Linked DNA regions of Homo sapiens. The protein of the gene in region 1 purifies or fractionates together with the protein of each later gene. This does not show direct contact. Each region holds a gene or a part of one and is shown on either strand. Other genes may lie near its edges.

Region 1 (2,181 bases):
CTTAGTAAAGGGAGTAATCCTGTAGCCAAGGAAGTTGACCTTGCTTGGCTTCTGCTTGTGGGTGCCGAAGGGAGGGAGGTGGGGTGACCGTGGGGCATGGATTGGTGGTTGGACTCCTTTGTAAGGTCTGATTCCCTTGACACTTTCAGGGAATCAACCCACTGTCCTGGAGACGGCGGAAGCATTCCACCCAGGGAAGAACAAATGGGAGATCCTCCCTGCCATGCCCACACCCCGCTGTGCCTGCTCCAGCATAGTCGTCAAGAACTGCCTCCTCGCCGTGGGAGGTGTCAACCAGGGTCTGAGTGACGCAGTGGAGGCCCTGTGTGTCTCTGACTCCTAGCTGTCTCTGGGCTCAGTACCTTTGCCCTGGACCATATCACTTCACTCTTAACATGAGGAATGATCTTGTCCAAGCAGTCGGGGCTACTTCCAAGAATGTCAGCTCCTGTTAGCAACCAGTGGAGTCTGGCCTTGGGGCTCTAAGTTGACCTCTCTATAGCTCCAAATCCTACCAATCTCAGAAAACTGTAAGAGGCACAGATGACTCCACCAGCTGCAGAGCTGACTCTGAAGAGAGTCTTCACTTACTGCACAGGCAAAGAAAGGCACAGGAATATTTCCTACCTCTCCCTCCTGTGAGTCCCACCTCCCCCCACCCCCATCTCCAGGAGGCAGGTAGAGCAGTTCTGACCGAGAGGATAGACTGCTGTTGCTGTCTTTCCCCAGCTCTGAACTAGTTTTAAGGTAGCTTAGGATGAAAAATGGAGAATGATTGGGGGTTCCAAACCACTTTCTTCTCCCTTGGCTTATATCTCTTCACCATTTGGTGGTCAACTGTGGGCCTACCCTGGACCTCATCTACTCAGCGAGAATTGGACATGAAGCTAGAGGCAGCTGCCTTGGAAGGGAAGTCAGGCTCACTTGGACAGCCCAGGCCATGGCAGGAAGAATCCCTTCCTCTTGGGGTCCTTGATGGGCATGTGTGATGGGGAAGGAGCAGTCTCCCAGCCCTGGGTCTGCTCCCCACATCTCTCCTAATTCCACTTCACCTTTTGCCACCCCCTCCCCACCAGAGGCCTAGCCCTTTTGTCACCGAAGGCCCCCAGAGTGTTTCTGTGTGAAACCCTCTCATTTACACTGTGGCATCAAAATCCACAAAAGATGGATTAATTGCACTCTGGTTAATAGCAGCAGCACAATGATTAAAATCTATATTCCTATCTTCTCTAGCACCCTGGTGTGGGGATGGGGCGGAAGGGTGTCTTGAGGGGCAGGGAGGACCCCATAAAACAATCCCTCCTGCATTCTCAGGCTAAATAGGGCCCCCAGTGACTACCTGTTCTTGGCTGTCCCCTCTGAAGAGCTCTGCCTTCTCACAGCCACCACCAGTTGCCCCACTCCCAGGAAAACAGCACATGTTCTTCTTCTCCTGCCTTGAGACTGCGTGTTAGTCTTCCATTCATAACTCATCAGCAGCTCAGTCCTTCTTATGTCTAGTCTCAGTTCATTCAGCCAAAGCTCATTTTTGTCCTATCCAAAGTAGAAAGGGTTCTTTTAGAAAACTTGAAGAATGTGCCTCCTCTTAGCATCTGTTTCTGACTCCCAGTTATTTTTAAAATAAATGATGAATAAAATGCCTGCCCTGAAGGGTTCTGGAGGAGTCAGGTATCACTCATCAGGTGATAGTGTAATTCTTTCTCCAGGAGGCAGGAATGGAGGAGGATCACCTATCTGGATCTGAGGGGTCCAGGGAGCCTCCTGGAGGGAGGGAGTGTGACACCTTCAGCGGGATCTTCAAGGACAAGTGGAACCTGGGTCTTTACAGGATACGGATTTTTTTCCCCTCCCTTTCTCTGGGTACTTGGACTTTTTCCTTACTTGGGTCCAAGAAGGGCACTGCCACCTGCTGGCCCAGCATTTCCCTTCCCCCTCCCAGGGCTGGGAGGCCTCCCGTAGCCGCTGCTGCCCCCTAGTGAGGAGACTGCAGAGAGGCCTCCCCTGCTGCTTCTGGATCCCTATATTTGAGTTCAGCCCCTGAAGTAACAGATAGAAACAGGAGCTGGAGGAGCTGCAGATACTATAAGGGATGATGGAACTGTGCATTAGGGGATGCTCTTCCAAAGGCATCCTGTCTCCTCAATCCCCTACCCAAGAAAGGTGTTTAGCAACTGGAGTGCC
Region 2 (3,500 bases), on another chromosome or scaffold:
AGATACTCTGCCCTGAAATGTGAAAAAATGAGAAGTAGATACATATAGAGAGGGAGAGAGGACACTCGCTAGCACATGCTGAATGTAGCAGGTTCATGAAACACTCTAGTTACAAAGGTGTGTACTTGAGGATGCTCTAAATAAAATGAGTTACTAATAGAATGTGAGTGACATCATATCGTTCCCCAACAAATACAAGGCCAAATTTGTATCTGCTTAGGTGTGTGACTGGATGTGTGCGCAATTGACTGTGTATGTATGTACAACAAGAGGAAGGGGAATGAGAAGGTGTATAAAAATAGAAGTATTTATGAGAACCTTGTAGCCTATTCGGAGAGGTAAAACAACCATGTGTAAAACTTTTAGAACAACTCAATAGAATAATATGTAAACAAATGGTTACAATGCTTTGAAATAAAGCTGGTAGAGATATGCAAAGAATATTAGAGGCCTGTGACACAAAAGCAATGGTGAATAGGAGTAGGCTCTTTCTTGTAAATAGTGAGCTAATCACAGAGGTGCTGATAGATTAGCAACTGCTGGGGAGAAAAAAAAGTATTTTCCTTTTGAGAATCAACATCTTTGGGCTTAAATGCAGGATGAATCCAAAGAATCTCAGTACTGTCTCTAAGCTGAGGTTGGCATAGGAGAGACACAAATTTTGTTTCCCTTGGCAAAGTAAGTCAGATCGGCTTAGTGAACATACATGTGCAAGTATTTGCAATAAAATGGAGTTAGCATTTCTGAAGAGATGTTGTTAGATTTTCTAATCATAAAGGCGATACACACTCCCAATAAAAACCTTAGAAAAATACATTAAGTATAAAAAGTCAGGGAGAAAATTTGCCTGTAATCCTATGACCCAAAGGCACTCATAACATTTTGGCATTTTCTTTCTCCTTATTTTTAATGATTTTTTCCATAATGCTTAATAGTGTATTACAACCTACTCTGTTTGCTTAATCTTATGTCTTAATATTTTCCAACTTCTAGACAAGCTTTATTAATGTCAGTATAATATTGGATTATGTGGACATATCATAATTTATTAACTATTCCCTTAAAATTGAACTTTTAGGCCATTTCCAAATATTTGATATTATAAATGGCACTTTGATGAATCTTTCTTCAAATTTCAGAATCTGTTTTTTGTGCATAAGGGTTATAAATGCATTTATATTCCATTTTATATATGTTTATCAGATTACTTCTTTTAAAAAGATTCGTGGAACGATAATTCCTGGGTCAAAGGGTATGAAAATTTCAGGCTCTTGATACTTAATGCCAAACTGATTTTCAAATAACTGAAGTTATGACTGACAGTGCATGGAACTACCCTTCACATGCTCTCACTAGGTGATTGTTTTTATTTTTAAATTTAAAAAAGCCACCATTTTGAAAAAAAGAATAGTTTATGCTAACTGCTGATTTTGTTCCTTTGTTACCCAAATCTCCCTTTTAGAATGTAGACTATGTAAGATATTGTGATTCATTTCACTTTTAAAAATTTACTTATGTTTCTGAACATGCAGATAGGGGCCCATGATAGAAAAAAGTAGCTTGTGAATGATTTTTTGAAAGCCAGTGTTATACATATCCTGTTTGGGGACTCTTCAGACTCTGCTGTGGAACAGCCCGTGAGAGAAGTTGATTGATGTAGGATGAGAGCCCCTTTTTGCAGAGCTAAACCCCTGACAGCCCCGCCTCTGTAGCCTTGGATATTAGGTCCTAGTAGTCATGGAGTGTTCTAACTGCACTTTTCACTGGGGCTGTAACCCAAGTGAGAGCAGGCCTGTAACTGTTTTGTCCATGGCTATGTCCCTAGCAGATGACCTTAGACAAAGTTTTGCTGGGAGGTGGGATCTGAAAATGCCTGAGTTTTTGTTTTTGTTTTTGTTTTTGTTTTTTTTTTTTCAGACGGAGTCTCGCTCTGTCACCAGTCAGGCTGGAGTGCAGTGGCATGATCTGAGCTCACTGCAATCTCCGCCTCTCAGGTTCAAGCGATTTTCCTCCCTCAACCTCCCGAGTAGCTGGGATTACAGGGGCACACCACCACGCCAGGCTAATTTTTTGTTGTTGTTATTTTTAGTAGAGATGGAGTTTCACCATGTTGGCCAGGCTGGTCTCGAACTCCTGACCTCAGGTAATCCACCCACCTCAGCCTCCCAAAGTACTGGGATTACAAGTGTGAGCAACCTCACCTGGCCATGAAAATGCTTGAGATTTTTCCCCTAGAAAACTTCTATAATGTTAGTCACTGATTGCCCAGAAACAAACTTCCTGAATTTTGAAACTTCTGGTTTTACTCTCTTTTCCAAAGAAAATTCAACCACATCACAGTACCTAGTTTTATGGCAATGAACTTTGACTTATTCCAGAAGAGGAATTTGGATCTTACACATACCTCTGCAGGGTATTTTATTGTCTAAAAACACTTACTGAGAGTAAAGGGAACTATTAAACTTACAGTAGCAGTCAATTTGAGGTGGTTTTTGAGTGCCAATTTCAATTTTTCCACAACTATTATATTCCTACAAAAATAATTTACAACTAAAATAAAAAATGTTTTGGTTTTCTTCTAAAAGTTGAAGGATATTATTCTATTGTAATAACTCTATTCTCCTTTATGGATCTCAGTCAGTAATTTTGAACAAAATTATTTTCGTTCATTTGTTCAACAAATGATTATTTAGAGAGATTCATTCAGCAGGTGCTGTTAAATTATATTATGACTCATTTTGTCAAATATGAGACAGATCTTCTTACACAACAATAACGCAGAACACTGTGTAGGAATTTATGCCTATACATTTATTTACTTACTTATAAGACACATAAAATCTCTTATAACATGCGTTAAAAAGTAAACTTGGCTCAGGAGAAGGTTTATTAATTAATAAAGGATTCATTAAATATTTGTGCTGCCAGCTGGGGATCCAGTAATGACCAAAACAAAAAGTTATGGAGGAGCTTACATTGTAAATGGAGGACACAAACAGGAAACATATAAATGAGCAAGGCAATTTCAGGCATTCAAAAAGTGCTGTAAGGGAAGTCAAGAAATCTGATGTCATAGAGAGTGCATGCGCTCATTTAGATCAGATGGTCAAGGAAGACCTCTCTGCATTTGAGGCATTTAAGCTACAACCTGCGAGAGAATGAGGAGCCAGCCTCACATATTTGGGGAGGGGGCATTGGAGTAGGTTTTATACTCAGTGCACTGGAAAGCCATTAGAAGGTTGCTCTTTTGGAGCATGATGTTTGAGGTCATTTATTAAAAATGAGTGTTGAGATGAAGAGTGCAAAGTATTACCTCACTGTAATGATGATATTGGTATTGGGAGCAAAAACAATGCTCACATTAGAGACTATATGTAGTTATGGTCAAGATATGTCATATATCACTATATGGCTGAAGACATTTCATATACAGTATGTCTCCCTACAAAGGGGTTTTAATATAAATATAACGTAAATATATTTAATAAATTTATAAATAT

The links.
Region 2: the proteins of KLHDC8A (region 1) and TMEM200A purify together in Homo sapiens (affinity purification with mass spectrometry; one large-scale study listed by BioGRID and IntAct). This does not show direct contact.

The regions. Positions count from the first base shown.
Region 1 is NC_000001.11:205,335,561-205,337,741, reverse strand, and holds the end of KLHDC8A (kelch domain-containing protein 8A), read left to right. Parts: intron 1-149; coding exon 150-343; 3' UTR 344-1,681; downstream 1,682-2,181.
Region 2 is NC_000006.12:130,372,517-130,376,016, forward strand, and holds part of TMEM200A (transmembrane protein 200A), read left to right. Parts: intron 1-3,500.